Homo sapiens: one gene and its partners. The protein of the gene in region 1 interacts with the protein of each later gene in a pairwise test. Each region holds a gene or a part of one and is shown in the gene's direction. Other genes may lie near its edges.

Region 1 (2,890 bases):
CGCTGCTCAGGGTGTTCACTTTTTTATAGTCTTCAACAAAGTCTAGATTTTTTTAGAATGCACAATTAATAAGTAGAAGAATTAGGAGATAAAAAAGAACAGTTTTACTGGCTGGCAGGTAGCTGGCTCCAAGGCCGTGCTCCAGATCCACCATTTGTGGGGCGGACAGCACATGTGATGCCAGGATCTGGGGCTGGCCAAGGGAGCATATCCTCCAAGGGGCCCCACCTGCAAGCTCGGCCTGCTGGATGCCCTGGATCTCAAATCTCACCTGAGCCCACAGCCCTCACTCGGGCAAGACTGGCCTCGGCCACCCATGAAGCAGCTTTCAGGGTGGGGCTGCTTCAGCTCTTACCAGGACACTTATGGCTTCCAGAGACACCTTCCTGAGAGAAGGGCTTATGCTGATGTGTTCCTCCTGCCTTCCACTGCGTGGATGGCTCTACAAAGGGCCAGGGCGCAGGCAGTGTGGACAACACACTGACCCCGGTGCTGTGGGAGTGGGCACTGTTGGGAGGCAGCGTGTTCCAGGCAGGTGCAGAGGTGGGAGGCAGCATCTTCCCAGCGAGATGTCCCCAGGTGAGGGGCCTCATCGCCCACCCCCAGCGCTGTCCCTACAGGTGCAGCAGGAGCGGGACGAGCTCTATCGGAAGTTCACCGCAGCCATCCAGGAGGTGCAGCAGAAGACAGGGTTCAAGAACCTCGTGCTAGAACGCAAGCTGCAGGCTCTGAGCGCCGCTGTGGAGAAGAAGGAGGTGCAGTTCAACGAGGTCCTGGCTGCCTCTAACCTGGACCCTGCAGCCCTGACGCTGGTGTCCCGCAAGCTGGAGGTAGGCCCTAGACAGGCTCCTGACCCCAGTGGGCGGCCTCATCCCTGTGGCAAGAGTCTTCAGTTCTGTGCTGCTCCTCGGATAGGCACAGAGACCCCTCGGTCGGCCACTGAGGAGGGGCATTCATGGGTTTCCTGTGGCCAGTTTCGGGCCAGTTGGGAACTGTGGAAGGGCTGGGCAGGGGAACCAGATCAGGGCCCACTCTGCTATTGATGGGGAGCACAGGGCTGGAGGGGGCTGGTTGGGGCCAGCACAGAATGGGGACGGGCAGAGGGTTGGAGAGCCGCCAGGAGGCTGAGTCCACAGGTGGGGCTGGGAGGGGCCGAGGTGACTTGGTGTTTGCACATGGGGGAACGACGGGTCCCGGCCCAGTGGGCGGTGGTGCCTGTGGGACCCTGGTCATCTGGGATGGCCTGGCTCTCAGGGCCTGAGGTAGTGAGGCTGTATAGGAGGGGCCTCACCTGGGCCAGAGGCACTGTGGCCCCGGGACTGAAAACTCATCTTTGTTTGCTCAGCACTGGGCCCAGTGAGCACAGGCAGGTGAGGGAGTGAGGGTCCCACTGTTGGGAGGTGGGGGAGGCGTGTTTCCAGCTCCTGGCTGAGGGCTGCACCCAGCCTGCTGCTAAGCCACCGAAATGAGGGTGAAGAGAGCAGTCGTGGCCTGTGAGGGTCATTGCAGCTGCGCCCACGCGCCAGGGTGAGGATGGAGGATGGAGCTAAATGTGGGTCAACCCCTCCTTTCCTGGTCATTGTTACCTCGACTTCTAAGTGAGGAATCTTCTGGGGAAATGACAGAGGCCCCCGCAGGGACACTGTTTGCTGCTGGCCAGGTGTGAGGGGGCTGCTGTGTCAGTGGGCAGCAGGGACGGCTCTAAAGCCAGGCTGGGCCCAGCAGTGCCCCACAGGCAGGAGCCCAAGAAGTCCCTGCCTCGCCACGTGGTGAGACCCTTGCCCACATCTGGGCGGGGCCAGCGCTGCTGAAGACTACTTTTTTCTGTTACAAAAAAGTGGGATAGCCGGGCGCGGTGGCTCACGCCTGTAATCCCAGCACTTTGGGAGGCTGAGGTGGGCAGATCACGAGTTTGGGAGTTCAAGACCAGCCTGGCCAAGATGGTGAAACCCCGTCTCTACTAAAAATACAAAAATTAGCTGGGCTTGGTGGCGGGTGTAATCCCAGCTATTTGGGAGGCTGAGGCAGAGAATTCCTGGCACCTGGGAGGCGGAGGTTGCGGTGAGCCTAGATCGCGCCACTGCACTCCAGCCTGGGCAACGGGGCGAGACTCCATCTCAGAAAAAAAAGTGAGATAGTACATTCACAAGCCTCAAGAAATTTAAGCAATATGTAGGTGGTGTTTAGTGACCAGTCTCCACAGTGTGGCTGCACGCTGCCTGCCCTCACCTCATCTGCATTTCTTGTGGTCTGGACTGCTCTTTGAGTTTTTTCTTGAGACGGTGTCTTGCTCTGTCACCCAGACTGGAGTGCAGTGGCTCAATCTCGGCGCACTGCAACCTCCGTTTCCCAGGTTCAAGCAATTCTCATGCCTCAGCCTCCTGAGTAGCTGGGATTACACAGGTGTGAGCCACCGTGCCCGGCTACTTTTCGTATAGTAGAGACGGGGTTTCGCCACGTTGGCCAGGCTGGTCTCAAACTCCTGACCTCAAGTGATCTGCCCTCCTTGGCCTCCCACACTGCTGGGATCACAGGTGTGAGCGGCAGTGCCTGGCCTGGACTGTTGCTGGAGAGGCAGGTTGTGCAAGCTCCCAGTTCTCTGCTTCTTCCTTGTTTTCTCTCCACCCTTGGAGACCTTTTTCTGCTGACAACCCTGTGTGGATGGATGCATCCATCAAACCAGGCTGCTATTCGCTGGATCTCTCAGAACGCCCACTGGAGTCCCCAGGCCGCTCCCGTTGCCTCGGCCAAAAGATGAGTCTCAAACTCCCATCACCTCTCTCTCCTCAGGATGTTCTTGAGTCGAAGAACAGCACCATCAAGGACCTGCAGTATGAGCTGGCCCAGGTCTGTAAGGTACGGCTGTGCCCTGCCCTCCCTCAGGGGCACC
Region 2 (3,500 bases), on another chromosome or scaffold:
AGCTCACCTGTAATCACTAGTCCTGTGTGGCAGGCAGACTTCTGAGAGGGCCCCCAGAGGCTCAGCTCACCTGTAATCACTAACCCTGTGTGGTAGGCAGGCTTCTGAGAGGGCCCCCAGATTCCAGGCTCCTTGTGCACACTCACCTTCCTACTGCCTCCCAGGTTTCAGTCCAATACTGAGTAGGTTTCATTGCTGTGGGATTGTGCAGATGTAATTAAGGTCTAAGATCTGTTGACCTTGAGATAGGGAGATTACGTGGGTGGGCTTGATCCACTCCCTGGTGGGCTTGATGTACTCACCTGAGCCCTTTAAGTCTGAGTCCAGACGTCCGAGGCCGAGCAGTCAAGAGACATAGCAGGAGAGGGATTTGATGAGGGAGATTGGACGTGGTTGACTTTGGAGATGGAGAGGGCCGTGTGGCAAGGGATGTGGGCAGCACCTAGGAGTTGATGGCTGTACTGGGCTGGCAGCCAGTCGGGAAGGAGACCTCATTCTCCATCTCTGAGCTCCACGTGAGAACATGTCCTGGCCGACTGCATTGATTTTTAGTCTGGGAGACCCTGGTCAGAGAATGCAGCCACCTACGTCTGGACTTCCGACCCACGGAGCCGTTGGCTGGTAAATAAATGGGTGGCATTCGAGGCCGTTGCCTTCACTAATATGCTTAATGTCATCTCAAAAGACGTCTTCCTCTTCCCAGGCTTTTTCACCTTCCCGTTTCCTGCCCCTCCCCTGTTCCCCAGCCTGGAGCCCAGTGGCTGGGCCACATCAAGACTTAGCACGGGACCTGCGGGAATGGGTCCTCAGGGAGTGTGTCTGCTGCACTGAGTCACTCACCTGGTTTGATGCCGTCACTGAGGATTCTGTTTTTCTTTGGGTGCGACCTGCTCAGCTGGAGGAAAGAGCAGAGCAGATCCGTTCGAAGTCCCACCTCATCCAGGTGGAGCGGGAGAAAATGCAGATGGAGCTGAGTCACAAGAGGGCTCGAGTGGAGCTGGAGAGAGCAGCCAGCACCAGTGCCAGGAACTACGAGGTGGGTTCAGGCGGGGCGAGGGTCGGCCCAGACAGCCCCAGGAAGCAAGGGGGCTGTGCACGGTACCTGCCAGGTTATAAGAAATCACATCCTAGTCCCTGGGAGCAAGGGGGCTGTGCATGGTACCTGCCAGGTCTTAAGAAATCAGATCCCAGTCCCTGGGAGCAAGGGGGCTGTGCACGGTACCTGCCAGGCCGTAGGAAATGAGAACCCAGCTGGCTGGAAGCCTGACACGCCCTGTGTCATGGTTGCCAGGACATTCCTTCTGAGGCCACTCATGCTGTGGGGCAGGTATCAGTTATGCTTGATGTCCTAGAGGAGGGTGGCATGAAATGGGAACACTTGCTGTGTCTGTTCATTGAGGCTGCGGTGCTGGCACAGATTCTTTTGCTGGGTCTCCTGGTTTCCTCTTCCCTCTGGAAGAATTGGAATGCAGGTCTGGCAGAAATGCCAAGTGGTGTAGGAGTGACAGGCTTAGGAGGTCATGGGGTGGATCAGGGTCTCGGGTCCATGCTGGGTCTTGGGGTTGGAGGGCCCTAGCAAAGGGTGCCGGTCTCAATGGCGGCTCTGTGTTGCTCCTGGCTCCCCAGGGCAGCAGGGAAAACACCCTGTCCTTGGGGAGGGAATTAGGTTTCCACTGAGTGCGCGGATCCCCTCTGCTCTGATTAACAGCACTTTGCCAGGGTTTCAGTCAGTGCTGATCAGTTGTGGAAATGCTGCCAAGGTTCAGGCAGAGTATTGGGCGGAAAGTCTCCCTGGCCTCCGTGCCCTCTCTTGGCGGGTGGATGTCCAGCCCCGCCCTGACATCATGCGGTGTATTCACACACTCTCCTGGGCCCTAGAAAAATAGCTCACGTCTTCCGGGGTGTGATGCTGGTTGGATTGCTTGCCCCTGGCCTGCAGATCCTGACTGCGGTGTGCGTTGTGTGGGCTCAGTGAGACTGAGGCACCGCTGGGGTGGGGGCCACTGCCTCAGGGTTGGCTCCGTTGCTGCTTTGAGAGCTGTTTTCCCTGAGAGGTGGGGCGTTTGCTCATGGCCTGGGTGGGTCCTAGGAGGGACAGTACTGGAGGAATTGGTGGGAAGGGGAGGGAGAGTCCACAGGAGTCTCCCTAACTACTGAGATTCCCTTGTTAGGGGTGGAGAGGAGCCACCAGGTCATTGGTCTGGAGGCAGCATGCTGATGGTATGGCTGTGGCTGTCAGGCAGGAGGGACAGTGTGCAGCTGTTGGAGTTCCTCTAGGCCGAGAGTCCCTGAGGGCAGGGCCCACCCGACTCTGCCCAGGATCTCCATTGTGTGGCACAGCTTATGGCATTTTATGGGTGCTCACAAATGTTGGATTGAGGGAGGGGTCATTGTAGGGTCTCCGGGAACCCTGTCTTGGGGAAATCCAAGGATGCAGGTGACTGGGCTTACACCTGGGGCTCCCTGCTGAGCTCCAGCCACCTTCTAACAGGACTGTCCTTCCTTGCCCGCAGACACAGCTGCATGGGACCCCAGGAACAGTCAGAACCAGTAGTTTTCCAATTGTTCCTTGGAGTTCCACCTGGAAATACCTATTAGGGGCGAGACTTAAGTGTCTGAAGTCCAAAGACCTGCTGGCTGCCCTGTCTGCGCTGGGACTGGCAGTTCCAGGCCCGGTGCCGCATCTGGCTGTGATGGTGCTGAGCGGAGCCCCGTGCCAACCCCAGTTCTTGTCCTGCATCACAGAAGGGTCTCTTGGTTGTTGTGAGGCAGCCCTTGCAGCTCACAAGGGCTGGAGTCCCTCCGAGGTGCGCGGGTCAGCCTCTCTCAGAAGGCGGCCACCTCTGTCACAGCTCTCCTGGGTTTTGGGCTGGAGTACCCTGGATGAGGACAGCACAAGCTCGTACTCCACCCGGGGCTCCGGGAGTGCTTGGTGCTTCCCGAGGAAGGCAGGGTGAGAGGGTCCCGGAGTGCCGGGCTCCACCAGGACTCACCGCCTTCACCTCCTGGGACGCCGGTACCTGGCAGTGAACTCTGGAGGGCCTGCGGGTCATTAGAGTCAGGAGGTCTGAGCGTGGTGCTTGGTCATGTCCCATCCCAACCAGTGAGAGCCACGCGGCCTCCCTAAGGCCAGTCGTGGGGGGTGGGTCTGGAGGTTTGTGGTTTGTGTGAGAGGGGGTGCATGTGTGGCAGATTTGAGCCCAGTGTAAACTGCTTCTGCCCACAGCCTCCTGTCCACGCTGCCTGTCTCTGCCCCTGTTGTCTGCTCGCTGGGGGAGTGCCAGCTCCTTTCAGTGCCGGACAGAGCGTAATTAGACAGGATTTGCTGGTGCTATGAAAGCTCAGCTTCTCCCCAAGGTCAATGCTGAATTTTAGATTTCCCATGCCCCCTCTCCCTGCAGAGGCAACTGCTGAGCAGACGGTGTGATAAATGTGTGTGTGATCTGTGCCAAGTGCCCTTCCTGGGAGCCCTGACCTCGCACAGTGCTCACCGTCATGGT
Region 3 (2,461 bases), on another chromosome or scaffold:
ACTCTTAGAGGCAGAGTAAACAGTATATGCCATAGTATTTTAAAACTGTTTTATATGTGTTCCCACAAAGACAAGAGCCTGGAAAAAATACAACATCCTGCAAAGAAATGGCTTATTTTGTAAATAAGCCATAAAGTATTTCAGTCCTCATATATCTTTGACTAGTTAACTTATTTGATCAAACTAGAACAATGTTTACTTATAGTTCTACAGTGATTAATAAAAACACACTTTTTCTATGCTGAGCCAAACATTATACTGAAACTCAGTCCAGTTACTCAAAAATTGGTTCTAAGTGGGGTCCATAGTGTTGACAGGCTATAGTTTAGGTATGAGTGGATTGTGTTAAGTCCATCACAGCTGAGAAATAAACCTCAAATATACATTTTCAAAATGTTGGGTCGGAGTTCTAGATTATCCTTTATGTTTTAATTGAAATAAGGTAGAGTCATGGGCTTACTGGTTTTGTTTTTGATTTTTTAGGTACAGCCCAAGCACCTTGGGTGTGTTGGACTGAGCTGCTTTTATTTGGCTGTAAAATCAATAGAAGAGGAAAGGAATGTCCCATTGGCAACTGACTTGATCCGAATAAGTCAATATAGGTTTACGGTTTCAGACTTGATGAGAATGGAAAAGATTGTATTGGAGAAGGTGTGTTGGAAAGTCAAAGCTACTACTGCCTTTCAATTTCTGCAACTGTATTATTCACTCCTTCAAGAGAACTTGCCACTTGAAAGGTAAGTGACCTTTGTTTTGAACAAGAGACATTTGGAAATCAGAATGGTATTGTATGGATATTGCATAAAATCAGTATCCTCATAGAATTCTAATAAAAATAAGTAAAATGACAGCTGTGGCTCCTTGAACTTTAATGTCCATCATAAGTGAGAAAATGTTCCATTGTCAATAGCTTCGTTAAAGCTAATTCTTGGGATTAAAGTACATTTTGACTTTATAGAACCTAGTAGGAAAGCATCTAACACAAATTTATGGAAAAAAAGGACCTTCAGTGGATGTTGAAATATTTATTAAAACTAAAAGAAAATAAATCTTGTATTTGTGGCATAGTACTATTCATTTTAATTTTTTGGCCCAAATCATCTAAAACTCCCATATGGTGCCTTTAGAAGTTAGTATCTCTGATGGAAGGGGAATTCCTTTCAATAGTTCATTTGCTATGTTAAGTGTGCATAAGCTTTACTTTAAAAATTGACTTCAATGTTTTTCTAAAAACATCTTTTGACTAGATGTAGTATTACCTAATAAAAGTAATACCATTTTCTTTTTAAAGGAGAAATAGCATTAATTTTGAAAGACTAGAAGCTCAACTGAAGGCATGTCATTGCAGGATCATATTTTCTAAAGCAAAGGTAAATATTTTATAAAGATTATGCCTATTGATATGATCTGTTTTTATATTTGGCATTTACTTTAAATTTATCTCTTTTAGCCTTCTGTGTTGGCATTGTCTATCATTGCATTAGAGATCCAAGCACAGAAGTGTGTAGAGTTAACAGAAGGAATAGAATGTCTTCAGAAACATTCCAAGGTATGTGAAGGACATAGCCTAAATCCTATTAACAGCTGTAAAAGAAACTAAACCCCTTCTATCTCCTGAAGTAAAATGAGATGTCATATGTTTATTTGAAACTTAAGTAGCTATCCTCAAATGTTTTTAATGAGCAAAGACACATGTTCATAGGATTGCATTTATTAATGTAGTTAAATAAGGTGGGACTTACTTGGAGTAATAATTTTTTAAAATTTATGTATGTACAGATAAATGGCAGAGATCTGACCTTCTGGCAAGAGCTTGTATCCAAATGTTTAACTGAATATTCATCAAATAAGTGTTCCAAACCAAATGTTCAGAAGTTGAAATGGATTGTTTCTGGGCGTACTGCACGGCAATTGAAGCATAGCTACTACAGAATAACTCACCTTCCAACAATTCCTGAAATGGTCCCTTAACTGGTAAATTTGGTCCGTTATTATTCTCCAGATAGAGAACATTTTCCAATGCCATAATTTTCAACTAAAGAAGAGTAATTATCTTCAAAATAAACAAAATGGAGTTGGAATAGTAAAGGGGGAGATGACATCACTGATCTAGTCAGCTAATATTTGAAGGCCTTTACTATATACAAGGTACAACATCTTAGGAGTAAGGAATTATCCAACCTCTGATACATACGTTAGCCATTTCATTAAATTTTCAGCTTAGAGAACAGCATCCTCCTTGTAGCACTAAAATCATGCTTTTTTTTAATTGCACATGATCTTGCTGTATGTATCTGACTGATTTAAAATTACATAAGCTGAGCAGGACAACAGCACCAAAAGTCTGAACCAAGTATGAACTAATTTGAGACTGTTAGCTTATAAGCAAAATCAATATGAACTTGGATATTGTACTTAAAAGAAAAAAAAGTAGGCCGGATGCAGTGGCTCACGCCTGTAA
Region 4 (3,500 bases), on another chromosome or scaffold:
AATTATGCAGGAAGACTTAGAAATAAAATGTGTTCTTTGGGTAATCACATTCTGCTTTTCAAGAAATTCCCTAGCAGCCATACTGATTATTTTATTTTATTTTATTTTTGACAAAAATTATAATATTACCAGAAGAGATTTAGCTTAGGGAGTTTAAAGACCTGTCCTTACTAGTTTTTTGACTTTGTTAAAATCTCTGAGCTTTTGTTTCTTTACAGTAAAATGTAATAATGGTAGCTGCTATATTTTCCTCATGAGATTGCTTAAGGTTCAATTGAGATGATATAATTAAAATCATATTGCATTTTGGAAATGTGGCATTATCATTTGCTAATCGCAGCATAATTGCAAGATTGATAAGGTGATGTTTGTCTGTGCAGCGGTTTAAAAATTCTATTGGGGAAGATTTCCACATATTTGAGATTTACTGGATTGGACTGTTCAGCCACTTTCTAGAGAAACCAATTTGTTTTCCAGGTTCCTGATCATAGCCCAGTCTGTAGCCCAATAATTAGTCAGATTGTATTTTCAGTTAGTTGCTTTTTTTTTTTTTTCTTTTTTTGTTGATACAGAGTCTCACTCCATCGCCCAGGCTGGAGTGCAGTGGTGCAATCTCGGCTCACTGCAACCTCTGCCTCCAGGGTTCAAGCGATTCTCCTGCCTCAGCCTCCTGAGTAGCTGGGATTACAGGTGCATGCTACCACGCCCGGCTAATTTTTGTATTTTTATTAGAGACGGGGTTTCACCATGTTGGTCAGGCTGGTGTCAAACTCTTGACCTCATGATCTGCCTGCTTTGGCCTCCCAAAGTGCTGGGATTACAGGTGTGAGCCACTGTGCCCGGCCAGTTAGTTACTTTTCTGTAATGTAAAGTTATTTTTAGTAACTTATTTTTATTTCCTTTTTAAAAATTCTAGATTCAGGAGGAATCAGATATGTGGAAAATAAGAGAACTGGAAAAACAGATGGAAGATGCTTACCGGGGGACCAAAAGGAAAATGCTACCCAGCAGTTCAAGGTGAAGTTGCAGCTCTGAGAACTAAAATAATTCTCATCTTTTTCAGAATCATCAACTTTTGTTTAAAAATACTTTGGTATATTAAGGATAAATTCAGTTCTGTGAGTCCTTAAGCCTTCCTTCTTTCGTAAATCTAGACCCAGGCATAAAGATAATGGCTGTGACGCATATGGCCCTGCTCTTTGTACTTATTTACAATGGAGAGTTAAAAAATTCTACCTGAACAATTATGAATGTGTAGGGTTCTGTGGATTCTAACCTTACCTGATAGCTTTTAACTGAAGATTTTATACTGGAATCTTGTGGTCACTAAGCTGATCAGTCATTCTATTCTCTATTAATCTTTCATTCTTTCAGGCTTTTCTTTTTGTAGCTGGAACTGCAGGTGCATGCCACTATGCCTAGCTACTTTTTTTTTGTAGAGGTGGTGTCTTGCTGTGTTCCCCAGGCTGGTATAGAATCCTGGGCTCACGCAGTCCTCCCACCTCAACCTCCCAGTGTTGGGATTATAAGCATGAGCCACTTGCCTGGCCTCAGACTTTTCTTCACCCTGTCTATTCACCCTCTTCACCAGATCAACAGCCTTTTCACATTACCTTAATAGCTTGAGTGTAAATATGAAGGATTATGCAGGCTTAGTTATCTTCCTTGTGGAGAGGCCTAGGAATGCTTGAATAATTGGGAAGATCCTTACACGCTTGTAAGTGTAAGAGCTACATATATAAGAAATACTTAAACTCTTTAGGAGCAGGGCTTGTGATTTTCTCATTTGCTGCTATATTCCTGCCAGCTAGACCAGTACCTGGTACATAGGAGGCCCTTACAATTTTTTTTTTTTTTTTTTTTTGAGATGGAGTTTCGCTTTTGTTACCCAGGCTGGAGTGCAATGGTGTGGTCTTGGCTCACTGCAACCTCCGCCTCCTGGATTCAGCCAATTCTTCTGCCTCAGCCTCCCAATCAGCTGGGATTACAGGCACCTGCCACCACGCCTGGCTAATTTTTGTATTTTTAGTAGAGACAGGGTTTCACCATGTTGGCCAGGCTGGTCTTGAACTCCTGAGCTCAAAGTGATCCACCCACCTCGGCCTCCCAAAGTGCTGGGATTACAGGCGTGAGCCACTGGACCTGGCCCCTTAAAAATTTTTGATAACCGATTAGCAGCTTACTGGCTAGTTAGTAGAAATGGTAAACAGAAGCTGGATCAGTGGTTCTCAACTTTTTTCCTACTCCAGTATTCCCATGGGTTAGACCTTGTTCCCACTGTTATTGGGACCTCTCTATAGTAAGTTGCTGGTTTGCACAGAGGGAAGTGTATTTCAGAATCTCTAGGGTAGTTTGAAGTGTCCCTTGCTATGATTATGTTCTGCTTCCCTCTTTGCATGCCCTCCTAGTTGAGAATCAGCGAGTGAACTATCACATGACATAGTCCAGAGTTGATTTCATCTCTCTATGCTTTGCAATAGGATGGGTACTAATGGTCAGATTTTTTTCTTTTTTTCTTTTTTTTTTTTCCTGAGACGGAGTCTCACTCTGTTGCCCAGGCTGGAGTACAATGGCATGATCTGGGCTCACTGCAACCTCTGCCTCCCCGGGTTCAGGCAATTTTCCTGCCTCAGCCTTCCAAGTAGCTGGGACTATAGGCGTGTGCCACCACACCTAACTACTTTTTTTGTATTTTTAGCAGAGACAGGGTTTCACCATGTCCCCCAGGCTGGTCTTGAACTCCTGACCCCAAGTGATCCACTCGCCCCGGCCTCCCAAAGTGCTGGGATTACAGGCATGAGCCACTGCACCTGGCCTGGTCAGATTTTTTTCCACTGGACTTTACAAATGTACAGAGGAACAGATAATCAAAGTGCTGGGATTACAGGCATGAGCTACTGCACTAGGCCTGGTCAGATTTCTTCCACTGGACTTCACAAATGTATAGAGAGGAGCAGATAATGTCTTTGCCTTTTTTTTTTTTTTTTTTAAACAGTATCATGTTGTTTCCTTCCCCCTCAGCTTGTTCCATGAGTTTTGTGCATGATGTTCCATAAAGTAAACTCACAGATTGCTTTTACATCTAAAAGTTCTTCTGCTTTCTCTTTTAGCCGGATGCGCAGTGATGGTTTTGATGAAGAAAGTCAAAGATACTATTGGAGGCCAAAGAATGAAATTTCTGGGACACTGGAAGATGATTTTCTTAAGGCTAAATCCTGGAATAAAAAGTTCTATGATTATGAAGCAAACATGCCAGACAGGTTTGTGATTAATTCCTGTGAGCATTAATATTTGGCCTGAGAACGTGTACTTATCAAAATTAATTGTCCCCACAAAAAACTTGTGTACAAAAGTTCATACCAGCATTATTAATAATGGCCCCAAAAAATAATGGCCAAGTAATCCAAATGTCTGTCAACTGATGAATGGGTAAACAAAATGCGATATATCCATACAATGGAATATTATTTGGCAGTAAAAGAAATGAAGTACAGATACAT

Evidence for each region. Proteins that work in one complex are often made in the same cells at the same time.
Region 2: the proteins of DRC4 (region 1) and MAD1L1 interact in binary tests that used the Homo sapiens proteins (3 or more experiments, as listed by UniProt).
Region 3: the proteins of DRC4 (region 1) and CCNG1 interact in binary tests that used the Homo sapiens proteins (3 or more experiments, as listed by UniProt).
Region 4: the proteins of DRC4 (region 1) and NKAPD1 interact in binary tests that used the Homo sapiens proteins (3 or more experiments, as listed by UniProt).

The regions. Positions count from the first base shown.
Region 1 is NC_000016.10:90,039,680-90,042,569, forward strand, and holds part of DRC4 (dynein regulatory complex subunit 4), read left to right. Parts: intron 1-81; exon of another isoform or gene 82-620; coding exon 621-830; intron 831-2,790; coding exon 2,791-2,856; intron 2,857-2,890. UniProt on the Homo sapiens protein: Component of the nexin-dynein regulatory complex (N-DRC), a key regulator of ciliary/flagellar motility which maintains the alignment and integrity of the distal axoneme and regulates microtubule sliding in motile axonemes.
Region 2 is NC_000007.14:2,222,946-2,226,445, reverse strand, and holds part of MAD1L1 (mitotic spindle assembly checkpoint protein MAD1), read left to right. Parts: intron 1-895; coding exon 896-1,036; intron 1,037-3,500. UniProt on the Homo sapiens protein: Component of the spindle-assembly checkpoint that prevents the onset of anaphase until all chromosomes are properly aligned at the metaphase plate.
Region 3 is NC_000005.10:163,440,595-163,443,055, forward strand, and holds part of CCNG1 (cyclin-G1), read left to right. Parts: intron 1-483; coding exon 484-737; intron 738-1,291; coding exon 1,292-1,370; intron 1,371-1,450; coding exon 1,451-1,549; intron 1,550-1,779; coding exon 1,780-1,971; coding exon of another isoform or gene 1,972-1,974; intron 1,975-2,461. UniProt on the Homo sapiens protein: May play a role in growth regulation. Is associated with G2/M phase arrest in response to DNA damage. May be an intermediate by which p53 mediates its role as an inhibitor of cellular proliferation.
Region 4 is NC_000011.10:112,077,299-112,080,798, forward strand, and holds part of NKAPD1 (uncharacterized protein NKAPD1), read left to right. Parts: intron 1-916; coding exon 917-1,017; intron 1,018-3,110; coding exon 3,111-3,260; intron 3,261-3,500.